2 separate regions of the Homo sapiens genome follow, and region 1 is linked to region 2. Evidence: fine-mapped expression QTL. A gene starts in region 2. The other region holds a variant in brackets. All regions are shown on one strand. Distances are between the middles of the regions. Region 1 overlaps BRD1 (bromodomain containing 1). Region 2 holds the start of BRD1 (bromodomain containing 1).

The links. PIP is the estimated chance that this variant, and not a neighbour inherited with it, causes the effect.
Region 1: its variant is fine-mapped to the expression of BRD1 in whole blood (TOPMed, PIP above 0.99).

The regions. Positions count from the first base shown.
Region 1 is chr22:49,775,345-49,790,956 of GRCh38, reverse strand. It overlaps BRD1 (bromodomain containing 1), which reads left to right. Exons shown (of 13, transcript NM_001304808.3): 8 at 3,070-3,567; 9 at 13,144-13,279; 10 at 13,796-13,923; 11 at 14,798-14,907; 12 at 15,212-15,366. Among named protein-coding and RNA genes, the nearest start is that of BRD1, 45 kb to the left of the region's middle. The variant G/TG (reference allele first, on the strand shown) is at 8,981.
Region 2 is chr22:49,821,373-49,836,984 of GRCh38, reverse strand. BRD1 (bromodomain containing 1) reads left to right here and starts at 9,112. Exons shown (of 13, transcript NM_001304808.3): 1 at 9,112-9,488; 2 at 12,654-14,034. The coding sequence starts at 12,668. LOC105377205 (a long non-coding RNA gene) reads left to right here. Exons shown (of 5, transcript NR_188597.1): 5 at 3,298-4,536. RefSeq lists silencers at 8,978-9,047, 9,778-9,947 and enhancers at 10,448-10,647, 11,857-12,436.

The DNA of each region.
Region 1 (15,612 bases), 46 kb after region 2:
GTCACAGTGATGCCCTTGCCAGAGGCTCCGGGGCGTCCCCTTTAGTCCAGGGCAGCTGTGGTCCCTTGAAGTGCACGTGTGGAAGTCCCCCTGCCGTGCACGGGCGCTGAGCACGTGGAGAACTGTGGCCCTCAGGAAAGGAAGGATGCATGTTCCTCGGGGTAGAAGGTGCGGAGTACGCAGCTTTGTCCCTTCAGGATTGCAGAGGACGGAGGCTTGAGGCAGGGTTGTTGGAGGGACAGTGTGGTTGCTGCTCGTGAGCTGAAATGTCTGCCTGTGTTACGCTGTGATTTTCCAAAGCGTCTTGTGGCTTCGATACAGAAACCTTTGATTGACATAGCAGGTGGCCAGGTGGGCAAAATATTGCGGAATTGTTCTTGCAGACTTAACTAGGTTTTAGTTTCTTAGAGTAGCTGGTTTGGATTAGATAACCATTTTGCCATTTGGAATATGTGACAAGTTCCAGGGACTGGAATTCTAGGATCCTGACTGATACATTGACGGGGTCTGAGAGGCTTATGCCCGAGTTGTATCGAGCATGTTCTGAGCTTTTCCCATGTGCAGTTCAGTGACAGCCTGAGATGGCCCAGAGTCAGTGAGCTTTGAGAGGAGTCTTCCTTCTTGTATGTCAACTTCCAGTCACATTTCCACTCGAGGGACGGGTTGGGCTTGCCTGTTGTGTCGTGGAGCCTGGAGGCTCAGGTCCTGTTTTTTTCTGATTTTATGGATGAGGAACTGAGGCACTGAACGGTCCGGGGGCCTCTGTGGTCCCGGCTGGGGGAGGGGCCTGTGTGGTCCCGGCTGGGCAGGTGGCTGAGCACCCAGACGACAGCGACCTCTGTTCCTGACCACGGCCTCCTTTGTGCCTCTGGTCAGTGCTGCAGGAACGCATCCTTTAGCCTGCGTGCTGGCGGCTGGAGCCCGGCCTGCATGTGGAGCTGCCGCAGAGAGGCCAGGGGCGTGTGGGGTGCATGCATGGCTGAGACAGGGCCACAGGGGCCCGCTTTGGGATAGACCAGGGGTTAGGGAAGTCCCTGCAGCGTGGAGATGGTTATGAGTCCCACATGGGGCATCCTAGCTGGGCCGAGAGCTGGAGGTGTGGAGGAGGGGTTGTGGACCATGGTTGGGGAGGGCCTGCTGCAAGGCAGGGACGTCTGCACGTCTCAGGGCTCCTGCCAGACAGGAGTGGTGGTTCTGAGGGTTGCACCAGAAGCAGGAGATGGGGGTTTACGGTGCCCGTTAGATAGCTGTGGAGAAGGTGGGCTGTAGGTGGTTGGGGGAAGGGGGGTCTCCCGGAGGTGCTGGGAGGAGACTCCTTCAGGCTCCATCTCTGCTGGCCGGGTGCTGTTGCACCCATAGAGGCCAAGACTGGGGTTGACCACTGGCCTTGGCCCTGCAGAGGCCATTGGGATTGCAGTGAGCAGTTGAATGTCGTAATCAGGGCGAGAGCTCGGGGCGGGGGGGGGAGGCTAGGAGGTGGAAGAGGAGGCAGGAAGTGAAGTGAGGCCCCAGGCCCTGTGCCCCAGACACCAGCTGCGTCAGGACGCTGCAGGCTCAGTGCTGAATCCCCTCCTGCTGCTGTACAGGCACCAGGGATGCTCATGAGCAGCCTTTCAGCAGCCCTTCTCCGCATTGCCCAGTTCCCTCCGGCCAGTGTTCCCAGGTGTTTCACAAACACCTTTTCCTTAAGCCTGTTGGCGACATTGAACAGGAGGGAGGGAGTTTTGTCACCTCGCATGTGCCCCTGCCTTGGGATCCAGCATTCCCACATGACAGCTGTGCTCCCTGCGGCTGACACGGGAGGCTTTTTGTTGAGGTGAGGCTTCCCCCTTGTATTTGAATTGGCTGTGAGGTGCTCTAAGGCGCCGAGTGTCATTTAAAATCAGAGGCACCTCGCAGCCGAAAGCACTGCTGCCCGGCGTCATGGCCCAGCCTTGGGAGAACTTTCTTCAGCCTCAAAACATTGCTCTGAGTCCTGTTAAGTTGTGTAGTTTTGTATTTTCAAAACAACTTTTTGAATGACAATAGTAACCATACATACTTCAAACGGTTTTAGGAAAGTTTGCAGGTTTAATGAAATGAAAACTGTACCCAGTGATAATATATACTAAGGATTATTTAAAGTGTTTTATGTCACTTTAAATAATCACAAAATCCTTGGTTTTATGTCACACTTCCTGTTGTCAGTACCGGTCCTGCTTGGAAGGAAGCCTCAGTGGCTGGGCTTGGCTTGTTGTGGCGTCGCCTCGCCCTGTTAGCCTCGTGCCAGAGCCTGTCCGGCCCCCTGGACTCGGGACAGTGCACAGAGCCCCACAGACCAGCCCCAGGCCGTCCTCCTGACCTCGGGCTTTTTACCATTTCACACTTCCGGTTTTTATAATGTCAAAAAGACTTTAAAAAGAGGTTAAAGCCGTCTTTTTCCAAAGACTTCTTATTTTTAAAAGTCAGATTTTTTTTTCCTGAAAGCTCCCATCACAATATTTGGGAACGTGGCACGGACTTCTGTGCTGTGGGGAGCGGGGCTTTTTTCCCTGCCTTTCTTGAAAATCATCCACAGCCACTCACCACTCCCTGTTTTTTTTGTTTGTTTGTTTGTTTTTGCATTTTTGACTTAAGACCTTGACCAGAGATCAGATTTAATGTTGCCTTCCTTTTATTTGCTAACTTCGTGGCCCAGTAGAGCTCTGTGGGAATGCCCGTTTAAGGCCCCTTTAGTTATGTGAGATACCTTTTCTTCCTCAAGGTAAGTGAATTATTCATTGCAGAAACTGTCATGAACTCGAGTGACGTGTTTAATATTGGCGCATGTGAAATAATCTTTCACAGTTTTTTTCAGAGAGTAACTGTGTGCCTGGGCACTGCACCCAGGGCCGCAGCCTTTGGCGTTAGGGAAGCACACACAGTGTGGCCCGAGCCCACGGGGCCCACACTGCCGAGCAGACAGTACATGCGATGCCTTGTTTCCTTAACTGAATTAGTATTTTGGTGGACTTCACATTTATAGTAAGTTTTATAATAGATTTTATAATCTTCAGTTTTCAAAAATCACTTTATTTATAATTTTTTCAGGAGATAAATCTCCCCCTAAACTTGAACCATCAGATGCATTACCTCTTCCTTCAAACTCGGAGACTAATTCAGAACCACCAACCCTCAAACCAGTAGAACTCAACCCAGAGCAGAGTAAACTTTTCAAAAGAGTCACATTTGATAATGAATCACATAGCGCTTGCACTCAGAGCGCACTGGTAAGCGGACGCCCTCCAGAGCCCACCCGCGCCAGTAGTGGCGATGTGCCGGCGGCGGCGGCCTCCGCGGTGGCGGAGCCAGCAAGCGATGTAAACAGACGCACTTCTGTTCTCTTCTGCAAATCGAAAAGTGTAAGCCCCCCAAAGTCTGCCAAGAACACTGAAACCCAGCCAACTTCTCCTCAGCTAGGGACCAAAACCTTTTTGTCTGTAGTCCTTCCGAGGTTGGAGACTCTTCTGCAGCCAAGGAAAAGGTCGCGGAGCACATGCGGAGACTCCGAGGTGGAGGAGGAGTCCCCAGGAAAGCGCCTGGACGCAGGTAAATGCCGCGGGCGGCCCTGAGAGGCGCCCTTGCCGACCAGTGCCTGGAGCGTCCTTCAGGATCATTGGTGTGACGGGGGGGGGGGGGTGTCCAGCTTCTGTTTTTGCAGCATTCTCTTAATTTCCAGAGAAGACAACAGTGCAGTGTTTTCTTTGAAAAGCCTTGAGTTGCGGGTCTGAGGCCGGCGCCTTCGTGGGGGGCCTGTTTGCCACGAGAGATTGTGCAACCTTGCTGGGCTGCCCTGGGCCAGGGGTCGATGGTCCTTGGTCCTGTCTTCTGCCACATACTTCCTCTCTGATTTTTTTTTAAGAGAGTCTTGCTTTGTCACCCAGGCTGGAGTGAGTGGCTCACTGCAGCCTCCAACTCCTGGGCTCAGGTGATCCTCCTGCCTCAGCCTCTTGTGTAGCTGGGACTACAGGTGCACACCACCACTCCCAGCTAATTTGAAAATTTTTGGTAGAGATGGGGGTCTCGCTGTGTTGTCCCGGCTGGTCTTGAACTCCTGGCCTCTGACTCCCAAAGTGTTGGGATTAGATGTGTGAGCCGCTGCACCTGGCCCCTTCTGATCTTTAAAAAAGTACTGAGAATGAATTCAGGTGTAGTTTTAATTGGTCATCTTGACTTTGCTGTGCACATCTGGATAAGCTGGTGACTGGCCGCTCCCAGCACTTGTGGGAGCTCGACTCTGCAACCCTCAGTCAGGTCTCCTTGCAGCCCCACAGACCTAGGACCTGGGGTTGAGCCTGGCCCTTCCCTGGACCTCTGAGAGGACCTGCCCCTGTGGTAAATGCAGTACTTTGCAGTTGATTTCAGCAACATTTACTCATTGTTTTATGTGGCCCTCTTAGCCACATATGTGATGAGGTATTAGGACCTGCTGAAATAGCACTGGAAAGCGCTTCTCATCTCTTGCTGCGCTTTTGTAACTGAACTCTGTTGAATTCCTCGGTGAGGGTGTTGCCGTGTGTGTGCTGTGCTGGGAGCACTTTGAGGAGGCCGCTGTGTTCCTGCAGCCTCTGCTCCCCGCCCCTCAGAGGAAGCTGAGGAGTTTGTCCTTTAAAGAGGAGCAGCTGTCATCGGTTTGCTTCTTCGGTACTGGCTGCGCTTCTGGAGGTGCCGGCTCAGGTTGCCAGCGACTCTTTTCTGGAAGCGTGTCTGGAGCATGTTTGTCATTTTGGTTTTTGTCCCGAGTCAAGGCTTGGTTCCCGTCTGTCCTGTCTGCCTGTTATACCTAGATAAGGAGATGCGCATTTTCTCCTGGCTGTGCTGGTGTGCCGTGGTGCCTCGTGCACTTGAGCAGTGAGAGAGGGTGGGGCTGGGTGGGTGTTGCTTATTTCCCAGAGTGGCAGCAAGTGAGTCCTGTGTCATGGAGCCTCACCAGGCCGGGTGCAGATGGAAGGCTGTGGTGGGCAAGACCTGCCCAGGCCACTCCCTCACATCTTGTCCCTGTTCCTTCTGCTGGTCTCTGGCCTGAAGCGTCCGGGGAGGGGAGTGAGACCAGGCACTGTCAAAGGTCTTTGTGCAGAAGGAGGCTCACTTCCTACCCTTGCCAGCAAGCAGGTCATGCGTCTTGTTGCCAAAGTAATTTCTGGTAAATTTCATTTTGATTTGTATGAAAATTTTGCACGTAACTGAATGTGTAGAAATTTTCTACCCATGTCCTTTTACTTTGATGGATTGATGTTAAATTGGCATTTTAAAATAATTTGAAAAAGCTTTTTTGCTTTCTAAGTAATAGGAAGCTATTGAAATGTTTCACAAGATACCAATAAGAATAGATGTCCTTGACTCAGGACTGGGGGATGTGTCTTAACCACGTTGGTCTTTCTTAGCCACCTTTGGTGAAAGACTCTGACCTGGTTTTCCAAGCACCCCGGAAATTCTGTGATGAATCGGGTCAGGGTGCTGTGCACTGGGTACTAGAGGTTGGGTCAGTGTAATTGTGGGCGTCCCCTCTGCATGCAGAACTTGGAGTTCGGCTGACGCTCCACTTCCTCGGGGTTTCACGTCTGTCGGCGGCAGAGGTATGGGGCTGCGTGCGTGGAGGCCCTGCCGGCCGTGGGGCTGGGGTTTGAGGCGGCCTCCCGTCGACACTCAGCAGGATGCTCACGTGGTGGTTTCCACCAGGTGGCCCCACCTGACCGGGCCCTGCCCCAGCTGTGGGCTCCCACTGTGGACAGTTTTGCCGGCTGGCGGCCACGTCCTCAGCAACCTCTCAGGCTCGTTCATCAGATGTCCCTTGTAGAAGAGCACGTGTCCCCTCCGGGCCACTGTCTTACATTGGAGTGGAGTGTTTTGCGGGCTTCCCGTGGTGACGGTGGTGTAGAGCAGTCTTACTGCAGACCTTCAGTGAGCGTGGCCCATGGTGGCTTTTGAGAATCATGGTGCCCTCTGATCCTGACTGAAGTGGAGATTTCTGCTCTCTCATTTCCGAGTGACAGTGGATTTCCGTGGAGGTGCGGTGAGTTCCTGAGCTCTCTCCTGAGCAGCCGGGAGCCTCAGCAGCATTAAGACCAGGCCCTCGGGAGTGGGAGGCATTCCACTGCTGTGGCCGAGGCGCCCGGGGAAGGGCTGGGCGTGCTCTGAATGGTGCCAGTCCCGCCATCCGCCCTCGCTTTGGTTTCACCGGAACCTTCTGGTGCTCTGCACATGGGGGATTTCTTGCCCAGAGCTGCAGTTCTTCGCAGTCTTAGGACAGGAATTATCCGGAACCTTCTGATGTTTTCCATACATGCATCTGTGTGCTCTGAACTTTAGGGAGTTATCTGGCATTTTCCAGCACACGCACAATTCTGAGTTAGGCTGAACAGGGTCGCTGGTCCTGAGGCGACGCACTCACTGTGGGCCTCCTGCCCGTGTCGCCCGCGGGCCGGCTGTGCTGTGCGCCAGGCTTCTGTTCCTGCGATGGCCCAGCCCCAGAGTCTGGCCCTGACTCGTGGCTTCCTTCCTCCGTGACTGCACGCTCACCAGCAGTGAACCGTCACCTGAAGCGGCCTTCCACTCGCCGCCGTTGCGGAGACCCCTGCTGCGAGTCTCTGTGTGCACGTGCTGGGGCGTGTGAGAGCGTGGGGGTGTCTTTGTCTACTCGCCGCCGTTGCGGAGACCCCTGCCGCGAGTCTCCCTGTGCACGTGCTGGGGCGTGAGAGCGCGGGGGTGTCTTTGTCCACTCACCGCCGTTGCGGAGACCCCTGCTGCGAGTCTCTGTGTGCATGTGCTGGGGCTTGAGAGTGTGGGGATGTCTTTGTCCACTCGCTGCCGTTGCGGAGACCCCTGTTGCGAGTCTCCATGTGCACGTGCTGGGGCGTGAGAGCGCGGGGGTGTCTTCAGTGTCCTTCGGCTGTTCAGGGAGGAGGCTGAGCTGTCCTGCCCTTTCATTCAGACTAAATGGCTTTTTCACTGTTTTCCAGGTTCTCACTTTAACCACTAATGTGCTGGGTAGTTCACTCTTTGGACCCTAATCATTTTCTCTTACCTCAACTTGGACTGGAGTTCTGCTAAGCGGCCGTTTTGGAATGCACAAAGATCACTGCATCTTGCCTTTCACTTAATTCTTGCGGATCACATTGGAATCATCAGCTCAAACATCCTCTAGACAAAATCACAAACAGCAGCCCTGGAGGAGCTCTCCCCCACCCCAGCCCACCCCCTCTGTAAGTCAGAGCCCGGCAGTGGGAATGGTGCTGGCGCCCGGTGCACGCCTGGAGCTGGCGGGATGTCGTGGCACCTCAGCCTTCCCTCTGGACAGTCACGAAGGACGCAGAGGAGAGCCCGGCACCGACTGGGAGCCTGCTGCAGCTGACGACACAGTGGACAGCATTCTGAGGCTGTCCTGAGCATGTGCGGAGCCGTCCCATAGTGACTGGTGGTTTGGGTGTGACGGCCATGCCCAGGCGCGTTGTGCTGTGTCTGTGCCATGGGGTATGGAGGAACTTGGCTCGGCACTGTCTGAGGATGTGGCATGGACAGTGCGTGCTCACTCACTCGCTAGCATCTTCTGTATTTCTGGGTTTTCTACCTGATTTCCTTCTCCCCTTACTTCCCCTTCCTCTGTTTTTTCCCCACAATGCCCAGTGGATTCTTGAGCAGTGCTGCTGTTTGTCTCTTGCTGGTCACCACGCTGAGTGCCCCTGCGGCCAACTGAGAAGTCCTGCTCGTGGGGTGGGGCATCTGTGCGTGGGATCTTGTGCAGGCGTCTGTCCTGGGCCTTGGGTCTGTCTCTGACCATCCCAGCTGCATTGTCATGGAGCTGGGTCCCAGCAAGAGCAGGTCTCGTGCAGGCGTCTGGCCTGGGCCTTGGTTCTGTCTCTGACCATCCCAGCTGCATTGTCACGGAGCGAGTCCCAGCACGATGGGCCTTGGGTCTGTCTCTGACCGTCCCAGCTGCATTGTCATGGAGCAGGTCCCAGCAAGATGGGCTTTGGGTCTGTCTCTGACTGTCCCCAGCGGCATTGTCACAGAGCAAGTCTTGTGCAGGCATCTGGCCTGGGCCTTGGGTCTGTCTCTGACCATCCCAGCTGCATTGTCGCGGAGCGGGTCCCAGCACGATGGGCCTTGGGTCTGTCTCTGACCGTCCCAGCTGCATTGTCATGGAGCAGGTCCCAGCAAGATGGGCTTTGGGTCTGTCTCTGACTGTCCCCAGCGGCATTGTCACAGAGCAAGTCTTGTGCAGGCATCTGGCCTGGGCCTTGGGTCTGTCTCTGACCATCCCAGCTGCATTGTCGCGGAGTGGGTCCCAGCAAGAGCAGGTCTCGTGCAGGCGTCTGGCCTGGGCCTTGGTTCTGTCTCTGACCATCCCAGCTGCATTGTCACGGAGCGAGTCCCAGCACGATGGGCCTTGGGTCTGTCTCTGACCGTCCCAGCTGCATTGTCATGGAGCAGGTCCCAGCAAGATGGGCCTTGGGTCTGTCTCTGACTGTCCCCAGCGGCATTGTCACAGAGCAAGTCTTGTGCAGGCATCTGGCCTGGGCCTTGGGTCTGTCTCTGACCATCCCAGCTGCATTGTCGCGGAGTGGGTCCCAGCAAGATGGGCCTTGGGTCTGTTTCTGACCATCCCCGGCTGCATTGTCACGGAGCAGGTCCCAGCAAGAGCAGGTCTCGTGCAGGCGTCTGGCCTGGGCCTTGGTTCTGTCTCTGACCATCCCAGCTGCATTGTCACGGAGCGGGTCCCAGCAACATGGGCCTTGGGTCTGTCTCTGACCGTCCCCGGCTGCATTGTCACGGAGCAGGTCCCAGCAAGAGCAGGTCTCGTGCAGGCGTCTGGCCTGGGCCTTGGGTCTGTCTCTGACCGTCCCAGCTGCATTGTCACGGAGCGGGTCCCAGCAACATAGGCCTTGGGTCTGTCTCTGACCGTCCCCGGCTGCATTGTCACGGAGCAAGTCTTGTGCAGGCATCTGGCCTGGGCCTTGGGTCT[G/TG]TCTCGGACCGTCCCGGCTGCATTGTCACGGAGCAGGTCCCAGCAACATGGGCCTTGGGTCGGTCTCTGACCGTCCCCGGCTGCATTGTCACGGAGCAGGTCCCAGCAAGAGCAGGGTGCTGTTGGAATCTTCTTCCGTGTGTGTTTTTGTTGAGAGGTTGAAAAATGCACCAAAACTGCTCTTCTTTTAACGATGGTAAAAGTGAAACTGAAAACAGGAGATAGTGGGCTCTCCTTTGTCACTGCGTGGGGCCCTCAGGGCTCTGGTCTTCAGGGTGCAGGCTCAGCCCACCTGCTTCATACGGCCAAGCTTCCCATGAGCCGGAGAAGCCGAGGTGGCAGCTTGGGTGCCAGCGGCAGGGGCGGGCAGGGGCGGGCTTGTATCCCGTGTTGTGGGGTTGCGTTCCCATGGCTCCGTGCCCTCAGGTGTCTCGGCAGCCACTGATCAGGGCCTGGTGTTCTTACACCTGTGGCCTGGAGGATTTGTGGTGTCCACATGGGTTGGGGGCTGGGAGCCTGAGACCAGAGGAGACTACGGCCCATCAGTCAGACCTGCAGGCCTCCGCCTCCCCAGGTGGGCCCTGGGGCTTCTCTTCCCTGTGGGGAGGGGCGGTGTCTCAGCCGCTGTGGCCTTCAGTCTCTCAGAAGACCCTTTGGGGACCTCCCGGGACAGTTTCAGGTGTGCTGTGGACGTACCTGGTGACGGGCAGGCTTCCGGGGACTGCGCTTGGCTGGGCTGTGGGACACCTTTGCGCCATCTCCTTTGGGGGCAGAGAGGGACATTTCTGTGTTCAGTCTTTGGCCTCCTAGGAGGTCACTGGGAAGGCCCTTGAGGGTGGGTGGACCCTGGCCGCTGTGGGAATTCCGTGCAGCTCCTGTGTTGATGGGGCAGCGGCTCTTTCCTGGCAGCCGCCGCCTCTTTTAACGTATTTCTCACAGTCACCAGCTTTACTTTCAGCGTTAAAAAAAAACCTCGTGCTGAAAAAGTTGCTGAAAGTTGCCCCTTGCTATTTACATGATTTAGAGGCTTGGGCTCGGCCTCAGTGCCTGCTGTTTGCAAATGCCTCATGGACCGGGCACCCATCTCTGCAGACCTTAGGCCCTGGGTTCCCCACGTTGGGCCCCACCTCAAGGCTGGCCTGGGCTTCAGAATGTTCTGGGCTGAGGTCCTTGCAGGGGTGCTGAGGTGCGGGTCATGGTGGACATCTCCCAGCTGGCTGGAAGAGCCTCCCAGGGCGGGAGTTGGCAGGGCCGAGATTGAGAGATCTCAGAACCATAGCTGTCTTAGATTATTTTCTGGTGGTCCAGGTGGAGGCTGGGAGGGTCCGGGCAGCGCAGGCCACCTTGCAGCTCCCCCGAGGTTCTGGGGACTCCAGGCGGTGGCTGCAGAGCCTCCCGGGATGTGTCTGTGTCCTGGTCTGGCTTCTTGGCTTCCTGGGTGACCCCGCACTGCCGCAGCCCCCAGACCGCCTGTTAGCAAGCCTTGCAGCTGTCCCACCCCCGCCAGGCCTCCTGCTGGGTGGTGTCTCGGTTGGGCTGGGTTTGTCTGTGCTGCCCACGTCTTCCCGGGTGCTGTCACATTTTCATGGGTGACACGCAGAACCTCTGTGTGTTCTTGCGTCATACGCGCACTCACTGAATGCTTAGGAAAATTAAGAGGGGCATTTTATCATTCTCCTCTTTCTGAGAATTAAGGACTTGCCTTGTGTTTTAATCCCCTTCCTGGCCCCACTCCATGCACACGGAGCCGGGGCCGTCGTGGCTGCTGAGTGGTCTGTGCATGGCTTGGCTGTGTTGGTGCTGGCACAGCTGCGGGTGATCTCGTGCTAGGGCCCTCAGGCTGGCACCTCTGGGCAGTCTTGTGAAGGCCGCACTGGTCATCGTCTTCCCCCAAGTGGCCGTTGCTCGGCCAACCAGTAACTACTAAAAGCCTCCCCACCCAGGCCCTGGGCTGCGTCTGTTCAGCCTGGAGCAGGCTCACCCTGCACCTGGGGTCTGGAGTGTGCTGGGGGCCGGGCTGTGGGGTGTGGGTCGCCAGGCTCGTGGCTGCTCTCTGGAGACGGGTCACACGCGTTGGCAGACCCCTCTCCGGGCCTGTGGGCTGAATGCTGGCAGGGGTGCTGGGCTCCGTCCGTCCACTGCTGATGCGAGCTGGGTGGGCTTCCCTTGCCTTCACCCACTCAGGTTGGAGTAGGGATGGAGTCGCTGCTCCTGAGGGGTTCTCGGGGGCCAGGACGGGACTTTTAATTCCCTCTTGAGACATCTTCGGGGCCTGAGTGTGCAGGGTCTGAGCCCACTCTGTGATGAGTATGGGGAGCATGTGGAGCCCCAGGGCAGCTCAGCGTGTGGCTCAAGGCCTTCTCCTGTAGGTTTTTAAATTTATTTGTTCCCTTGCCAGAAATGAGTATGACACCCCCAACTGGCCACAGTTCCTGCCTTAAAATGACCGAGGTTAAAATGAGAAACACAGAGCTTCCCTTGGAGGTCACGGTACATTCCAGTCCAGGAGAGACGGAGCCGGTGTCTGACTTGAGTCTGTGGAGGGCAGCAGTGCACCCGCCCAATCTGTGCATTCCCTTCTGAGCTTGATTTAGCCCCTCTGTTTCAGTCAGTCATGCTCATTGAGAACAGACAGCAAGTGTATGAAGCGGGTGGAGGCTGATTCAGCCCCTGTATTGAAAAGTCGGTCGTGCTCATTGAGAACAGACGGGAAGCGTACGAAGCGGGTGGAAAATCCCGCAGTCCAGCCATTCCCTTCAAAACATGCCTCCCAGCCACTCAGGAGGCTGAGGCAGGAGGATCACTTGAGCCCAGGAGGTCAAGGTTGCAGTGAGCCATGGAGTCCATTGCACTCCATCCTTGGTGACAGAGTGAGACATCGTTTCCAAAAAAATTCTACAGAAATGCTCTATTTACAAATTTACATAATTTCCTTTGGAAATAGATTTAAAAATTTTTTAAGGATGAGGTAGGTAGGCAGGAAAACGGGGTTCTTTTTGGATAAAAAAATTCACATGGCCGGGTGTCATGGCTCATGCCTGTAATCCCAGCACTTTGGGAGGCCGAGGCAGGCGGATCACGAGGTCAGGAGATTGAGACCATCCTGGCTAACACGGTGAAACTCCGTCTCTACTAAAAATACAAAAAATTAGCCAGGCATGGTGGCGGGCGCCTGTAGTCCCAGCTACTCGGGAGGCTGAGGCAGGAGAATGGCGTGAACCCGGGAGGTGGAGCTTGCAGTGAGCCAAGATCGTGCCACTGCACTCCAGCCTGGGCGACAGAGTGAGACTCCGCCTCAAAAAAGAAAAAAAAAATCACACACCCCTTTAGCTCTGACACCCAGAGGGCCCCCAGCAGGAACATCATCCCCCCGTTGTGACTCCCATGGGGGACCTCATCGGGGGGCCTTGGGCAGATGTGTTGTTTCCCGTTGACTGACAAAGTCAGGATTTTTAGGGGGAAAATACTGAGATTTGCCTTATTTTTTAAACATTGAGATGATGGAATTGTGAGTGGTGTTTTGTTTAGCTGTGTACAGTACTTGCAGCTTCATGGTGAGTGAGGCCAGACACACTCAGACACGGCGATGGCCCCGGATTTTGTGTTTTAAAGTGTTTCGTCAGCATTTTTGACTTCATGTTAACACTTGTCTTTTGAACCAAGGTTTTTTCTTTTTAAAACCTGATTTCCTATTCCCTGGAGCTCTGCTCCTGTGAACATGTTTTTGTGTCTTTGGTGGCCCCTTCGGCCTGGTGAAGTTTCCGTTCAAACGCGGCCGGTGCCCACGTGGACAGGCCGCCCCCGTGTTTGCACTCACAGGTTGCACATCTGCCCCCATGGCAGGCTCACGGCATCCTTTCTTTGCCTTCACAGAGCCTGTCTAAAGACCCGGGCTTGTCAAGAGGAGCATCTTCATGGTGCTCAGCAAACTACTACGATCGGAGCCGACTGCAGTTTGTTAAGTTGATTTCATTTAACGAGTAACTTTGGTGTCTGCTTACTGTAAGGACTATGCTCGGGAACTTGGGAGTGAAAAGGAAGATGCTGTCTTACCTGTCTGTGAAACGTGCTTTGTAAGATGTGTTCCAAGTGTAACGTCGTTGAGTCATGCTTCAGTGTGCCCTGGTTGTGCTGAGCTCAGGGCCTGCCCGCCTGTGTTCCAGGTCTCACCAACGGCTTTGGGGGTGCGAGGAGCGAGCAGGAGCCGGGCGGCGGCCTGGGGAGGAAGGCCACACCCCGACGACGCTGTGCCTCCGAGTCCAGCATCTCCTCCAGCAACAGCCCGCTCTGCGACTCGAGGTGGGCACCGCGGCCCTGCGCTTCCCACCACGCAGCTCCCAGCACCGCCCGCCCCGCCTGGCTGTCCTGGAAGCCGGGACATTCCAGCTCCCATCTTAGTGTTCTCTGAAAAATTCTGGCCTGGGATTCATGTGTGCTCTGCCCTTGTGGACAGTTTCCCATGCTGCATATTAATCTGCTTTATAGAATTCAAGCAGAAGTAGGAAAAACACTGCGTGAAATAGGAACACAATTTTAGAATCTGCAATGAAGTTTTACACTTGATCTTTACCTCCCAGAATCTGGCAATGAGCACAGCCCTGCCTGTCTGCCCTGTGAAGGCCACTTTGGCCTCCTGAGTCCCCCCTGCCACAGGTTCACTCCCTCCAGACCTGCGCACCCACAGGCCCGTCTGGCCGCGGGGGTGTCAGGCAGGATGCGTGGCCAGCTTGGTGGCGGACAGCTCACGGGACGAAGCCCGAGTGAGGCTGAAGGCAGGGGCGGGGCGCCTGACTCCCTCTGCTCTTCCTCCCGAAGCTTTAATGCGCCCAAATGTGGGCGGGGCAAACCGGCTCTTGTGCGACGGCACACGCTGGAGGACCGCAGTGAGCTGATCTCCTGCATCGAGAATGGGAACTACGCCAAGGCGGCCAGGATCGCAGCCGGTGAGTCGCCCGGACCTGCCTCCATGGCTCTCCACACCTCCTGGTTAGCGTCTTAGGGCTCGACTGCTGGGGACTGGACTCCGGCTCAGGGAGCATGGTGCCCTGTGTGGAGCCCCACCCTGGCCAACCTCCCGGGGAAGGGTTCATCACACACCGAGGGGCTCTGGGCTGTGGCCCTGCCGGGGTGCCTGCGGAGGTGGCGCCTCCTCCATCCTGCCTTCGTTTCCCTGTGGAACGTCCAGCTCTGTGTGGCTGCTGGTTGCCAGGCACTGTCAAGGCTGTCTGGGGTTGTTTAGGTTCAGTGGTCATTTGCAGCTGCACAGGGGACTGACTGCAGGGTGGGTGCCCTCAACTTCAGGCCCCTGGGGGAGGGGGAGGCCCCAGGGTTTGGGGTCGCACAGCCCTCACTGTGGAAGGCAGCCATGCTGTGAGGGGGCATCAGGACGGAGATCCCCCAGGTGGGAGGGACAGCAGGGAGCTGGTCTGGCGGAGGGGGAGCCAGGACTTTGGTTTCCCATTTGGGGTGTCAGTTGTGTAAATGAGGCAGGAGCATGCTGGGAGCCCCGTCCTTGCGGCAAGGAGGGCTCAGAAGGGACTGTGCTGGGCACCTGGAGTTGGAGCCTTGTAGCCTGGAGGGCAGGAGCTTCCCTGGGTCCGTGGGAGGCTGGTGGCCCCAGGTGGGCTGCAGGGACAGTGGGGATGCAAGGGCCTGGACCCCACAGGGGAGGCAGTGGTGCTGCCGGGGTGGCTGAGAAAGGCCTGGGAGCTGGGCTGTGCTCGGGGGACCCACCCTGTTGCTGCACCTTTTGTGGGGGGGCGGGGCGTGCCCCGTGTCCTGCTGACGCCTGTGTCCTGCTGACGCCCCTCTCCGCAGAAGTCGGCCAGAGCAGCATGTGGATCTCCACTGATGCCGCCGCCTCGGTGCTGGAGCCTCTGAAGGTGGTGTGGGCCAAGTGCAGCGGCTACCCCTCCTACCCGGCACTGGTGAGTACGGCTCTCGTGGCGCCTGCGGGTCCAGAGGAGGCTCACACAGCTGCGGGGCGGGGGTGGTCCGAGGAGGCTCACGGCGGTGGTCCAAGGAGGTTCCACAGCTGGCGGGGGGGCGGGGTTGGTCAGAGGAGGTTCACACAGCTGGAAGGGGCAGGGGTGGTTCGGCGAGGGGGGCGTGGGGGTGGTCTGAGGAGGCTCACACAGCTGGGGTGGGGAGGCGGGGGGGGGTGCCAGTGACAGGTGGGGTTGTTTATGGGTGTGAGCCTCACAATGACCTCAGCGGGTCCTTCTCGTGCAGATCATCGACCCCAAGATGCCCCGTGTGCCTGGCCACCACAACGGCGTCACCATCCCGGCCCCACCCCTGGACGTGCTGAAGATTGGGGAGCACATGCAGACCAAGTCTGATGAGAAGCTGTTCCTCGTTCTCTTTTTTGATAATAAGAGAAGTTGGTGAGTTGAGAGGCCTTAGACTCCGGGGACCGGCTGGGGTGGTTGGGGGCCGTGGGCTCGGTGACCTGAGTGTCCCTGTGGTGAGCAGCGTCTTTGTCTGCTGGGCCCTGGCACAGCTAAAGTCGGAGGTGAGTGCTCCGCTGTTTGCCTGGTGGAGAAGGGCACTGCCCAGCCCCCTCGCCGGGACTGTGGGACGGGCACTGAGCACCGGGTCTGTCTCTGCCCGATGGCTTCCTCTCCCTCTCG
Region 2 (15,612 bases):
ACTTGGGAGGCTGAGGCAGGAGAAACACTTGAAGCCAGGAGGCAGAGGTTGCAGTGAGCCAAGATCGCGCCGCAGCACTCCAGCCTGGGCGACAGAGTGAGACTCCGTCTCAAAAAAAAAAAAAAATCAGGTTCTGTGTTTTTTGTTGTGGAGTTGAGGACTGTGGCTTTTATTCCCAGGGAGATGGGAAGCCAGTGGAAGGTGTTAAACGCAGGAGATGCTGTCACTTGGGCTGCTGTAGAGAGGAAGAGGCAGAGGGGTACAAGGGTGAAGCAGAGAGGTGGGTCAGGCTACTGGGATAATCCAGGTGAGAGGTGTTGAGGGAACAGAGGAGGCGGTGACACAGGGCTGGCTCTGGACTTATTTTGAAAGGGGAGCCGACAGGCTTTGCCAGCGGGTCAGACATGAGCAGTGCAGGAGTGCCTCTCACCTAGGAAGCCCGGAGTTGCCTTAGCTGAGAAAGTGGATTCATGTCCTATGGCTGCTATGACAAAGCGCCACAGCCTGGGGGGCTGAGAATGGCAGCAACTCACTCTCCCACAGCTCTGGAGGTCGGAAGCCCGAAGTCCAGGCATCAGCAGGACTGTGTTCCCTCTGAAACCCATAAAGAGGGGTCTTTCCTGCCTCTTTCGGCTTCTGGTGGCCGTCAATACTTTGCATTCCTTGGCTTGTGGCCACATTACTCTGCTCTGTCTCCATTGTCACATAGCTGTCTTTGCTCTGTGTGTCTGTGTCCCAATTTCTCTTCTTATAAGAATACCAGGTGCTTGCTTCAGCAGCACATACACTAAAATTGGAATGATACAGAGAAGGTTAGCAGATTGTGTAATTTAGAAAGGGATACCAGTCATTAGATTAGGGCCCAACTCAATGACCTCATCCTAACTTAATTATTATTATTATTATTATTTATTCTTTTTTTTCTTATGTCTTTTTTGTTGTTTTTTTTTTTGAGATGGAGTCTTGCTCTGTCGCCCAGGCTGGAGTGCAGTGGCACGATCTCAGCTCACTGCAAGCTCCACCTCCTGGGTTCACGCCATTCTCCTGCCTAAGCCTCCCAAGTATCTGGGACTACAGGCACCCATCACCACGCCTGGCTATATTTGTGTATTTTTAGTACAGACAGGTTTTCACCGTGTTAGCCAGGATGGTCTCCATCTGCTGACCTCGTGATCTGCCTGCCTTGGCCTCCCAAAGTGCTGGGATTACAGGCTTGAGCCACTACACCCGGCCTATTATTTATTCTTATTTATTTATTTATTTTTTGCCACTACACCCGGCCTATTATTTATTCTTATTTATTTATTTATTTTTTGAGATGGAGTCTTACTCTATTGCCCAGGCTGGAGTGCAGTGGCGCAATCTCTGCTCATTGCAACCTCCGCCTCCCAGGTTCAAGTGATACCCCTGCCTCAGCCTTGTGAGTAGCTAGGACTACAGGCATGCGCCACCATGCCCAGCTAATTTTTGTATTTTTAGTAGAGTCGGGGTTTCACCACGTTGGTCAGGCTGGTCTCAAACTCCTGACCTCAGGTGATCCGCCCGCCTCAGCCTCCCAAAGTGCTGGGATTACAGGCGTGAGCCACTGCACCTGGCCTCATCCTAACTTTATATCTGCAAAGACCCTATTTCCAAATTAGCTCATATTCCCAGGTACTGTGCTTAGGACTTCACCATACCTTTTGCAGGGGGGACACAATTCAACCCATAACCGAGGAAGGAGACAGCAGAGAAGTTTGGGGATGAAGACCAAAAGCTGAGTGCCAGATACGTTGAGTTCGAGATGCCTACAGGACATCCTGGAGGAGAGGCTGAGAAGGCAGCTAGATGTTGGAGCTGTCAAAGCATACTTTTTAAAAAGTTAGAAACAGGGCCAGGCGCGGTGGCTCACGCGTGTAATCCCAGCACTTTGGCAGGCCGAGGTGGGCGGATCACGAGGTCAGGAGATCGAGACCATCCTGGCTAACATGGTGAAACCCCTTCTCTACTAAAAATACAAAAAAAAAAAAAAAAATTAGCCGGGCGTGGTGGTGGGTGCCTGTAGTCCCAGCTACTTGGGAGGCTGAGGCAGGAGAATGGCATGAACCTGGGAGGTGGAGTTTGCTGTGAGCTGAGATCGCGCCACTGCACTCCAGCCTGGGTGACAGAGCGAGACTCCGTCTTAAAAAAAAAAAAAGTTAAAAACATGACTCATACAACTCTAAAGTGAAGACGTGTCAAAGATTTATTTTAATCATTAATGAGGAAACCAGCATGATGGTGAGGCTGGTTCAAAAGATTGGAGAGAAGGAAGTATTTGTAGTGACTTAAAAAAGTTTGAGTAATTCTGCTTATTTAGATTTTTAAAAAAACTGGTTAATGTTCTACAGGGCCATAAACCGCAACCTTTTCTTTTTTTCTTTTCTTTTTTTTTTGAGATGGAGTCTTGTTCTGTCGCCCGGGCTGGAGTGCAATAGCTTGATCTCAGCTCACTGCAACCTCCGCCTCCCAGGTTCAAGCAATTCTCCTGCCTCAGCCTCCTGAGTAGCTGGGATTACAGGCGCCCACCACCACGCCCGGCTGATTTTTGTATTTTTAGTAGAGACAAGGGTTCACCATGTTGGCCAGGCTGGTCTCGAACTCCTGACCTCAGGTGATCCTCCCACCTTGGCCTCCCAAAGTGCTGGGATTACAGGCGTGAGCCACTGCGCCCAGTCAAACTGCAACCTTTTTTACTGTAATCTTTTCCACTGGACAGAAATAATTTCTATCACTCACTACTGGGCAAAATTTATTTGCATTGCTGTCAGAGAGGAATAATTTTACTTAGCCATCTATCTTCAACAAATTAAAGTCTACCCTTGCTGAGTTGTAAAATATCGTAATCAATAGTATATAGCAAGTTAAGCAGGCGCACACTCCAGAGGATCCGAAAATCTGCCTGGCAGGCTTGCTCAGGAACATAGCCTGCCACTGAATGGACACACTCATTTTGGGGTGTCTAATCCTTAATCTGGGACATTTTTATTAGCTCCCTCTTGGGATGATAAATAATCTCCGAAGGTTATTCTTGACCACAGAAAGCTAGTCTTGCATTCTGACCTAATTCATCTACACAGGTGCTGCAAGAAGTGGTAATTACCACGCACGAGTGTCCTTGTTAGGTGACACATGTAAACCAGATGGCGTTATGCAATGACCAAGCCGGAAAATCAACTTCTGTCTGGACGTGTCATCATAAGGAATGTAGGACTGAGCCTACATCACACCTGAGATTTTTTGTTTTTTAATTTCTCTTATTTGCTCTTCTGTTCCTAGGCCAGGAAGCCGAACCAAATCCACCTCCCTCAGGTGTGCCCGCGGGACCTGTGTGTGTGCAAGTTTCTATCTTCCAGAAGGTTCCAGTGTCTGCCATGGCTCTTGGCCTGCCAGGAAGTATCCTTCTTACTACTTGTGAGGCTGAGGCTTTGTGTGCCAGAGTACAGGTGCCCGGCCAGTATGGGTCTGAGGGTTGTGTGGGCATTGGTTCAGCACACAAGCCACAACCCTTGTTCCTTAAAGGTGGGCGTGTTGTGGAAGCACAGGAAAGTTATTCTCAAATATGACACCCATGTAAGGCCTGGGCTCCACTATTAATTTGTCTGATTATATCCTGGTGACAAGGAGGACAAATTTCTACTGCAACAATGCAAATTACTACGTTTTTATTAAAAGTAAATGTCAGTAAAACTATTTTTCCTGAATTCTGAAGTGAGAAAAACACCATTTAAAGAACGTTTTAATGTTTGTGAAAGGATAGTCTCCTAAAGTAGATTGTTGCAGATACCGGGTAAAAATAAAAATTAAATAAATTAAAGGTGAGATAGATCAAAGAAGAAGGGTTTTGTCTTATTCCTGCCAGAAACAGAATATCAGAAACAACATGAGCATCCTCCTCCTTGCCTTTTCTTGGGCTGTGCTTTCAGCCTGCAGATATAACCATTCTGGAGAGCAGTGATGCCCCCAGAACCGCATTTTTGGCTGGTGCAAAATGGGGGGCAGTGGTTGTGTCTGGGGCCAAGTTTCTGTCCTGTATAGCCTAGAGATGGTTATGTAGCGGGGGACTGAGCTACTAAGTGAAGGCATAGATAGTTATGTAGAAACAGAGGAGGGTAGAATCAACTCCATGCTAGATTGTAACTGGAGGTACAGGTATCAGTATGAACTCAAGGTTTGCTAAGAGGTATCAGAAAAGATATGGGTGTGTGTGTGTGTGTGTGTGTGTGTGTGTGTGTGTGTGTGTGTGTGTTTGTACATACTTATTTCCTAGCTCTGTCTGCTGAGTGTAAATGGAATCATATTCTGTAATCTTTTGAGATTTCTTTCTTCCATTTAAAATTATGTGTTTGAGATTTGGCCGTGTTGGTGGTGGAATTCATTCATTTCTGTTGCTGTGTGCTATTCCATTGCGTGGATACACCTCACTTTGTCCATTTTACCGTCCTTTGATATTTAAGATTTCTCCCAGTATTTGCTATTAAAAACAGCGTTAAAATAAAAAAAAAAAAACACCAAAAACAGTGTTGCTCTGAACATTCATGCACATGCTTCCTGATGAACAAGTTTCTTTTTTTCTTTTCTTTTTTTTTTTTTTTTTTTAGATGGAGTCTTGCTCTGTTGCCCAGGCTGGAGTGCAGTGGCGCAATCTCTGCTCACTGCAAACTCTGCCTCCTGGGTTCACACCATTCTCCTGCCTCAGCCTCCTGGCTAATTTTTTGTATTTTTAGTAGAGATGGGGTTTCACCGTGTTAGCCAGGATGGTCTCAATCTCCTGACCTCATGATCTGCCTGCCTCAGCCTCCCAAACTGCTGGGATTACAGGCGTGAGCCACGGCGCCCGGCCCTGATGAACAGGTTTCTTAGGCACACACCCAGGCACGGAATGCACCTAGGAATACAAATTGACTTAACCCTACAGCCGGGAATGGGTATGCACACTGGGGGAGCTTGCATCTTCTCAAAGTGGCCACAACAACTTCTCCCATACAGCATGCTTCTCTTAAAATGTGATGATAACACATGTCCCAAGAGGTGGGGTCTGTATTCTCCCTAACTCTTGAATCTGGACAGGCTTGTCCCTATGGCAGAAGTGATGCGTGTGACTTCAGAAGCTAGGATGTGAAAAGTGATACAGGTCCCACCTGCTTCTCTTGAGACCCTTGCTCCTGCAGCATGGCTACTATTCCATGAGGATGTTCCCAAGGCCCTCAGCCCAGAGCCTGGATCAAGGTCCCAGCCACGTGAGTGCACCATCTTGGAAGTGGCTCCTCCAGCCCCTAGTGGAGGTGCCCCAGATAAGGATGCAGGAAGTAGTCTAGTTGTACCTGCTGAATCCTGCCCAAATAGCAGATGTGTGAACAAAAGGAATGACTGCTGTTTTGAGCTACAAAGTTTTGGGGGTGGTTTGTTTTGCAGCAAGAGGTAACTGATAAACATGTCCACTTTCACTGGGTAACGCCTTATGACCAAGATATTTACCAAATAATTGTCCCACTCGACATTCTGGCCAGCAGGGTATTGCTCTGCCATCTTGCCATCGCTGAGTATTGCCACATATGAACGCTGGTGCCTATTTGGTGTGTATTTTGTTTGCATTTCCAAATTTACTAGTAAGATGATTGGCCTTTCCATGTTCTCTGCAAGAAGCCTGATTATGACATGGGTTTCTTTGTTGATTTGGGTTTTGTGCATCATTTTGTTGGCTTGTTTGTCTCTTTCTAATGGATCTGAAGGGGTTCTCTATATATTCTAAATACTAATCATCTGCAAGGTGTACATATCTTTTAGTTTTTCATTCTTCAGTCTCTTTATGGTGCCTTTTGAGGAACAAACATATGATAATTTCCATCCTTTCATTTACGAAATGGAGTCTTGCTCTGTCACTCAGGCTGGAGTGCAGTGGGGCAATCTTGCCTCACTGCAACCTCAGCCTCCTGGGTTCAAGTGATTCTCCTGCCTCAGCCTCCTGAGTAGCTGGGATTACAGGCACGTGCCCCCATGCCTGGCTAATTTTTCTATTTTTAGTAGAGATGGGGTTTCACTATGTTGGTCAGGTCTTGAACTCCTGACCTCAGGTGATGCACCTGCCTCGGTCTCCCAAAGTGTTGGGATTACAGGCATGAGCCACTGTGCCTGGCCCCATCGTTTTATTTTTCATCTGTTATTTTTCAGGTGAATTTCTTGTAAGAATATTTCACCATATTTATATTCCATTCAGAGAGGTTGTCTTTTAATAGATGCATTTAATCCAATCACATTCCTCTGATTACTCAAATGTTTGAACTTAGTTCTGCCAACTCATATTATGTTCTGTATTTATCATGATTTTATCTTTTACTCATTCCTGTTTTTTTTTTGTTGTTGCTGCTGTCGTTTTTCATTTCGCTTTTTCCTCAGCTGTTCTGAAAGTGGTAAATTCTTTTTCCACCATTCTTGTGGAAACTTTCTGATAGTTAAAACTTTTTTTTTTTGTTTTTTTGAGATGGAGTTTTGCTCTTGTTGCCCAGGCTGGAGTGCAATGGCACCATCTCAGCTCACTGTAACCTCCACCTCCCAGTTTCAACCAATTCTCCTGCCTCAGCCTCCCAAGTAGTGGGATTACAGGCATGCGCCGCCACGCCCGGCTAATTTTTTTTTTTTTGTATTTTTAGTAGAGATGGGGTTTCTCCATGTTGATCAGGCTGGTCTTGAACTCCCGACCTCAGGTAGTCTGCCCGCCTCGGCCTCCCAAAGTGCTGGGATTACAGGTGTGAGCCACCATGCCCAGCTAAAATTTTTAACCTTTTTTTCTATCGATTCTAAAATCCTCGAACCAAACAATACAAGAGCTTTCGTGCACTTTCACTTCCTTCTGCGCCCCGCCTTACCATGTGTCATGTTGAGTTCATCCGGGATTTCTCTCAGGTTGATTTTCTTTTAACGGACCAGACTGATTTACTTGCTGGCATCCACGTCTTACTCTTGGGTCCACTTTTCACTTTGTTAAGGTATTTCTTCTAGTACTTTTACAGACTGCGTGTGTGGTAAATGTGGATGTTAACCGGCGGTGAAGACACCTTTATTTTGCTGTCTCACTGGAACGCTAGTTTCACTGTGTATGAGTTACGGTTCAATTCTCTTAGTATTTTGGCAACCCCTCCTCTGTAGGATGAGTCTGAATTCTAAAGAAGATCCTCTCCGAAGGCCTTCCTGAGTATCCCTGTGACATGCCTACGTTCGAGGCTTTGTTCTTCACTCCTCTGAGCATCACCTGCATTGTCTGAGAGGCCACTGTCCCCGTCTCCTCTTCTGTGAAGGGTTTCGTGTCTTTTCATCTTCTCTTTCATGAGACTGTGTCTTACTTTTGCTCTGTGTTGTGGAGAACCTCCAGCTTGGTTTCCATCTGGCTTCCCTGAGGTGGAGGAGAGAAGCGTTCGGGCTCAGCTTGCTTGTTTGGCCACAGGTAAACAGACATCTGTAGAATGGAGGTGACACGAAGCTCCTGGGTCTGGTGCAGAAGAGGTCAGGGCCCCAGTGGCCTGTACCCCCTAAGCTCAAGGGTGTGTCTGCAGGGAGTCCTAGATCAGGACTGACCACTGGGGCCTTGGCTGGGGTCCTACCTGCCCTTGAGTCGTCACGTCACAACCCACACACTGGGTGCCATGGGCATGAGGACTGGCCAGGAAAAGGCCTGTGGGGCCTGGCCCCTATCAGGGACACTTGGGCGAACAAGGCCACCCCACTCCCAATAAGGTGTTTGGTGCAGTGCCCCGAGCAGTGGGGCCGCTCGGCTGCCCCCGTGGGGACGGTCTGTCCCAGGGTGGACAGCTGCTCTTCCTGAGGGGCCTGCCTGGATGCCACAGGCTGTGCTGCTGGAACCCAGGGATTCCACAGCACCATCGTCCTGATCACAAATTCTCAAGGAAACCAAGGAGCTCCTGCCTCACCTTAAAACATTTGGGATTTAATCTTGGAGTGAAAATTGTTATGACCCCACTGAATTTTAGAGTTTACACAAAAGGCCAAAGTGAAGGCAGAGACTCAGGCCTCTCAACTCCCACCCGCAGGGGCCTTTTCTTGCAACCTTAAAGGGCATCTGCTTCACGCCGGCCTCGGCAGGGCCCTCACACTGGCAGGACTACTTGCACACCGGGCCTGACACTCACTAGGGGAGGCTCCCCAGCCCGGCTGCACCACCCACCTCTACCTAGTCGCGTGTCCCGGCCAGTGCCCTTTCCACTCCCACCCAGTGCCCCCGCAGGGCCCCCTCTGTCCTCTTAGGGACCTCCACTCCCGGACCAATAGCCTCCTGCCTCAGGGCCCCCCACTCATGGGCCAATCGCCCCCTGCCTCAGGCCTCCCCCCACTCGTGGGCCAATCGCCCCCTGCCTCAGGCCCCCACCAACTCGTGGGCCAATCGCCCCCTGCCTCAGGGCCCCCCATTCCTGGGCCAATGGCCTTCTGCCTCAGGGACTCCCACTCTCAGCTGGTCCCCCCCGCCTCAGGGACCCCCACTCCTGGCCGTTCCCCCGTCAGGGCCCCCGACTGGCGGCTGCTCCCCCATCCTGCCTCGGGGCCCCCCACTCCCGGGCCAATGTCCTTCTGCCTCAGGTACCCCCACTCCCGGCCCGTCCCCCCGCCTGTGGGCCCCCCACTCCAGGCCGGTGGTAGCCCCTGCCTCAGAGCCGCCCACTCCTGGGCCATCTCCTGCCTCAGCGACCCCACTCCTGGGCCAATGCCCTTCTGCCTCAGGGACCCCCACTCCCAGCCGGTACCCCCCTGCTTCAAAGCCCCCGACTCCCGGCTGCTCCCCACCTGCCTCGGGGCCCCCCACTCCTAGGCCTACGTCCCCCTGCCTCAGGGCCCCTCATTCTCCATCCTCCTGACCCCCTCAGGGACCTTCTGGCCCGGTCCTCCCTAACTCAAGGGCCCCCACTCTCCATCCTCCCGACCCCCCACTCCCAGCCCGGTCCCCGCCGCCTCAGGGCCCCCTTTGGCCCCCGCTCCTCGCGGCGCCCCCTCCCCCGCGCGCGGCCGAGGCAGCGGAGTCCGCGCGTCATGGCGGCGGCGGGCGGGGCGCGTCTCGCACGCAGCGCGCCGGGCGGAGCGCTCGCCGCATTGTTTGCTTCGCTGGGGAGCGAGCGAGCGACCCGGCCCTGGAGTCCGAGCCAGCCCCGCGTCCCGCGCCCGCCGCCCGCCGCCCGCTCCCGCGCCCGCGCCCGCGCCCGCCGGCCGGGCCCCCCGAGCCGGGCCTCCAGCTGGGCCCCGAGCCCGAGCCCGCGCCGCGCGAGCCGCTGCCCGAGAGTCCGCGGCCGCCGCTGCCGGGCCCGGAGCCGCCGCGGCCGAGAGGGGCCCGCGCCCAGGAGCGGCGGCGGGGCCCGGCCTGCGCGGCCGTTGGCGGAGGAGCCGCGGGCGCCATTAGCACCGCCTCGGCCGCGCCGGCCCCCGCGCCCGCCCGCTTGCCGGGCTCCCGCGGCCGCGGCGCCCCGAAGGTGAGTGGGCGGGGGCCTGGCCGGGGAGGCCTCCCCGCCGCCTCGCGGGCCGCCCGGCCGCCGCCGCCGCCTCGGCCCGGCCTCTCGGGGTTGTGGTGCCGACGCCATGTTTGGCGGCGGCGGCGGCGGCGGCGGCTCCGCATTGTCTGCGGGCCGGGAGCCCGGGATGCCGGGGAGGCCGGGCGGGGAGACCGGGGAGGTCGGGCCGGGCGGCCGGGGAGACGGGCGGGAAGACGGGGAGGCCGGGCGGGGAGACCGGGTAGGTCAGGCCGGGGAGTCGAGGGAGGCCGAGTCGGGCTGTGGGTCTCGGCGGCCTGGGCCGCGGGCGCCTGCCCGGAGTCCGCGCTCGAGTCGGGTCGGGCCTCGGGCAGCCGCCGAGCCGGCCGGGCCGCCCCTTATGTAACAGACAGGCCCGCCGAGCTCTGCCAAGACGGGAACTCCCTGTGAGCAGGGACGCGCCCCGAGATCGCCCAGGAGCCGCGCGGCCTGCGGCGGCCGGGCTTGGGAACCGGCACCGCGGCCTCCCCGGGCGTTTGCAGGGAGACGCCTCGCGACGAACGCGAGGCTTCCCCGGGCCTTTTAAAACGAGTGACACGATTGAGGCGCAGTTCACGGGAAACGCGGCTCTTGTGAGCGGACGCGGGAGTTCTGAGAATCCGTAGCAGCGGGACCCCCTGCCCCGCGGGGTGCGGCCCCGTCTCCCCAGAAAGCGCGGCCGCCCGTGTCTGTTTTTGAGGGTCTGTCGCCAGGTGGTTGTGTAGTTAGTGGAATCGGCGGATGTTTTTGTTTGGCCGGCCCAGCGCCGTCCCGAGTGCTGTGTGCTGCACACAACTTCGCACAGCTCAGCGGCCGCGGCCCCTGTGGCCTTGACCGAGAGGCCCGGCGCGTGGCCGGCTTCTCCCTGGGCGGGCGGTGGGAAGATGGAAGCGGCCGTCTTGTGGGCAGCCTTCCCCGCCTGTGGCCCGCAGGGCTCTTCGATGTACTTAAGGGAATTATTCCTTGAGAAGCTACGTGTGTGCCCCCGCGGATCCCTCCCAGTGGAAATGCTTGTCCCAGTGGAAGGGCCAGGGACAGAACCGGCCCAGGGGGGAAGCGGTGAAGCAGAGGAGGTCGTGGGTCGCCCTGCCCTGCTGAGGGCCTACTTTCCCCGGGTCCCAGTTGCATGTTGAGGGTATGGAGCTGCTGTGGCCGTGAAGCCTTCGGTTCAGTTCTCCCCTTGTAGAAAGTGTTGCGATGAAGAGCTTCACGGCTCCCTGGGAGAGAGTGGGTTTCCAGGGGCTGCTTGTCGTTAGGGCGACTCAGGACTTTGCTGTCGAGGGGAAAATGACAGGTTCGTTTCTGATCTGGTGAGTAACCAACTGTTGCTTCTGCCCCACCTCAGTAATGACGCGTGTCGGCGTCCCGGGTGCACTAGGGTCGCTCTCTGCAGGCTGTGGTGTCACCTCTGCAGGGCTCACGGGGCCGGCTGGGGGGTGGCTGTGCTGACAGCTCCCCAGGAATCCAGGGTTGAGTGGGTACCTGGAGGCCCTGGAGATGCAGGGGGTCTGAGGTTTGGCCGACCACATTTTCTCTCCTATTCCTTTCTGTAGGTAATTGCAATCTAGTTTCAACATACAATGAGGATTTCTGTCTGATACAGAGAAAGATACCCAGTGTCTGGAGGGTCTGTCTTAAGAAGTGCTCTTGAAGTCTGCTGGGATTTCCTTTCGGGACTCACAGAGGGAAGCCTGCTCCCTGAGGGCTTTTTCTCAGGCCCAATAGATCAGGGTAAGGCTGCTGTGGGTGCCCCTGATCCCCCTGGGCCCCGAGGCCAGGCGTCCCTGACGTGGCAGGGCTAGATGCAGAGTATGCCTTGGGCTTCAGCTGAGAATATTTGTTTTGCGAGTCAGTCACTGAAAAATCATTTTGCTTCCTGTCAGTGAAGTGTGGCGCTTTGGAGGGAGGCACTGCCCAGCAGGCGGTGGTCTTCACAGGAGGTGTCCACACACCAGGCACCCTGGGGACAGCTAGGAATAGACGCAGTCCGTGGTGTTGGGACAGCAGAGGCCTCTGCCACGAGGAGCTGGAGGTATGGGAGGCAGCTCACTGGTTTTGCCTACCTCTGGAAAAGCAGATTCTCCTAAGCCTCTGTGGCCAAGTCTTCAGGCACCTGAGCCAGCGCTGGCGACCCTCCTGGTGAGGGTCTCTGCAAGCAGCGAGGGGTTCCTGGGGGTCACCCCTCGCTGTGGAGCCTGAGTGGAGCGTCTGCCTTCACGTGTGCCGGGGAGAACAGAGATTCCCTTTGGCGTCATGCATGTGTCTGGATTCTCTCAGAAAGGAGGAGGACGTGGAAGGAGGAGGACGTGGCCAGCACCATGGTCTCAGTGGGGCTTGAGGAGTGCCCCTGAGGGGAAGGGGCAGGTTGGCTCAGCCTGTGGTGGTTTCCATGGTGGTCACTGCCAAGGCTCTGCAGAAGCGGGGTTGGGGCCTCCCAGGGGCCAAGACTGTCCCCTCAGACCAGTACAGGGCTCCCCTGTTGGTCCCCTGTGCCGTGTTGTGCGTGTGGAGGGCCTGTCTATAGAGGATGGACAGGCTGTGATCTGTCTCCTACCCCTGGCCCCAGCAGGAATGCTGCAAGGACTGTGGTGACTCTGGGCTCATGGGAGTGCTCTCCTGGGAGTAGTGGGGAGGGGAAGAGTGGTTTAGGGGGAGCATCCGATAGGACCAGGTAGCCACTGAGCATGCCTGTCTGGTGGGCATAGCCTCTGTGCCTGGTGGGGTCCAGCCCTGTATGTGGACTTCCTGGGGGACCGCCTGCATGCTGGGAAAGTCCTGCAACTGTGGGCTCTGGGCCGGACCCCTCCTCCTTGGGGAGCGTTGCTGTGGTCTCCGCAGCCTGTTGGTGTGGTCTGAGAGGGGACTGGTGTGTGGTGGTAGGGACGCAGGTGCTCAGGAGGGCTCCTCAGGCTGCCTCTCTGCCTGTTACTGCTGCTCCCTCCCTGGTCCTGGGGACTCGCTCAGGCCTGGATGTGTGGTTTTGGACACCTTGGAAAGAGGTTAGCTGTGAGTTTTGCTTTGATTGGGCTTTGAGCTGCTGAGCTAGATCTGTCCAAGCATGCTTTTGTGGTTTTCTCGAGTCTTTGGTCACCCTGCGTAGAATTACCTTTACTTTTGCCTTCATTTTAGGTAATCATTACCAAATGAGGAGGAAAGGACGATGTCATCGAGGCTCTGCAGCGAGGCATCCTTCTTCCCCATGCAGTGTTAAACACTCCCCTACGCGAGAAACGCTGACCTACGCTCAAGCTCAAAGGATGGTAGAGATAGAAATTGAAGGGCGCTTGCACAGGATCAGTATTTTTGATCCCCTGGAGATCATATTGGAAGATGACCTCACTGCTCAAGAGATGAGTGAGTGCAACAGCAACAAGGAAAACAGCGAGCGGCCTCCTGTCTGCTTAAGAACTAAGCGTCACAAAAACAACAGAGTCAAAAAGAAAAACGAGGCCCTCCCCAGCGCCCACGGCACGCCGGCCTCGGCCAGTGCCCTCCCGGAGCCCAAGGTGCGCATCGTGGAGTACAGCCCTCCGTCCGCCCCCAGGAGGCCTCCTGTGTACTACAAGTTCATCGAGAAGTCGGCCGAGGAACTGGACAACGAGGTGGAGTATGACATGGACGAGGAGGACTATGCCTGGCTGGAGATCGTCAATGAGAAGCGCAAGGGCGACTGCGTCCCCGCCGTGTCGCAGAGCATGTTTGAGTTCCTGATGGACCGCTTCGAGAAGGAGTCGCACTGCGAGAACCAGAAGCAGGGCGAGCAGCAGTCTCTGATCGACGAGGACGCCGTGTGCTGCATCTGCATGGACGGGGAGTGTCAGAACAGCAACGTGATCCTCTTCTGCGACATGTGCAACCTGGCCGTGCACCAGGAGTGCTACGGGGTGCCCTACATCCCCGAGGGCCAGTGGCTCTGCCGCCACTGCCTGCAGTCGCGGGCCCGGCCCGCCGACTGTGTGCTGTGCCCCAACAAGGGTGGTGCCTTCAAAAAGACAGATGACGACCGCTGGGGTCACGTGGTGTGTGCCCTGTGGATCCCAGAGGTCGGCTTTGCCAACACGGTGTTCATCGAGCCCATCGATGGGGTGAGGAACATCCCTCCAGCCCGGTGGAAACTGACATGCTACCTCTGTAAGCAGAAGGGCGTGGGTGCCTGCATCCAGTGCCACAAAGCAAACTGCTACACAGCATTCCATGTGACGTGTGCCCAGAAGGCTGGCCTGTACATGAAAATGGAGCCCGTGAAGGAACTGACTGGCGGTGGCACCACCTTCTCCGTCAGAAAGACCGCTTACTGTGATGTCCACACGCCTCCAGGCTGCACCCGGAGGCCTCTGAATATTTACGGGGATGTCGAAATGAAAAATGGCGTCTGTCGAAAAGAGAGCTCGGTTAAAACGGTCAGGTCCACATCCAAGGTCAGGAAGAAGGCAAAAAAGGCTAAGAAAGCTCTGGCTGAGCCCTGCGCGGTCCTGCCGACCGTGTGCGCTCCTTATATTCCCCCGCAGAGGTAAGCGTGTCCAAGCATTGAGTCCACAAGGAGCCTGCAGTGTGGGACCCTGGGAGGACGTGGGCACAGCCTGCAGGGCCCGTGCTGTGTGGTCATTGCGTTTCTAGTTGGCGCAGCTTCCTAATATTCCCCTGAAGTGTGGTTCTGCTTGTTTACCACGTCTTTTTGGGGAATAGATGTTGTAAAAGATTTTAGTCTGTAGGCTTGGAATAATCTGTAGTTTTCTATGTTTTTTTTTTTGGAGACGGAGTTTTACTCTGTCGCCCAGGCTGGAGTATAGTGGCGCAATCTCAGCTCACTGCAACCCCCGCCTCCTGGGTTCAAGCAATTCTCCTGCCTCAGACTCCTGAGTAGCTGGGACTGCAGGCGTGCGCCACCATGCCCGACAAATTTTTGTATTTTTTAAGTAGAGACGGGGTTTCACCATGTTGGCTAGGCTGGTCTCAAACGCCTGACCTCAAGTGATCTGCCCGCCTTGGCTTCCCAAAGTGCTGGAATTACAGCACTTGCTCAGCCTTTTTTTTTTTTAAATAGGGTTTTGCTCTGTTGCCCAGGCTGGAGTGTAGTGGCACGATTTCAGCTCTCTGCAACCTCTGCTGCCAGGTTCCAGCAATTCTTGTGTCTCAGCCTCCTGAGTAGCTGGGACTACAGGCGTGTGCTCCCATGCCCAGCTAATTTTGTATTTTTAGTAGAGGCGGGGTTTCACCATGTTGCCCAGGGTGGTCTGGAACTCCTGAGCTCAGGCAGTCTGCCTGCCTCTGCATCCCAAAGTGCTAGGACTATAGGCGTGAGCCACCATGCCCAGCCGTGCGTGAAGATTTTTAAGAATTTCAGTGACTAAACTTTAAGAAGGAATGAAGCCCACGCAGGAACTCTGTATGACTTTCAACCCGAGGGGCTCTGGCCTGGGCTTCCCAGTGACTGCCGGCATCGGGACATCCACTGCTGTGGCCTTGGCCCCGTTTCCCGTGCTGTGCCCCCCACTTGCTGCAGATGCCCTGAGGAAAGGGTGGCCAAACAAGGGGAGGAGCTGTGAGCACAGATGGGGCCTGCCGGTCAACAGGGCGGGTAGAGCCAGCCTGGTGCTGAGCTTGCAGCTTGGCTGGGGGAGACGCCTAGAGCCCCAGTACCACACAGACCCTCCAGGACTGCCGGGGGTCAGTGAGCAGGACCCTCTGAGGTGTCAGACCTGCCCCACATGTGAGGGGAGGACAGCACAGGTGGGACGCATGCAGGCTGAGCTGCATCGGGCGGTGAGGCTGGGAGGTTGCAGTGAGCTAAGATTGTGCTACTGTACCGCAGCCTGCGTGACAGAGTGAAACTGTGTCTCAAAAAAAAAAAAAGAAGTTTTAAGTGATTTTTGTTAATATTACTCTACTTTACCAAAGTGAAGTCCAGTTTCTTTTCACAGAGCTGTAAATACTCAGATAATTAGTCAATTCAGACAGAATGAACAAAAAATGCTCATAATCCTTCCCATCCAGGGAAAACCCTGTCAAAACCAAGGTGTTTGTCTTTGTAAATTAATCTGACTTTGAAGAGATGGTTTTGCTTGGATTTCTACCTATGAGTCAAAAA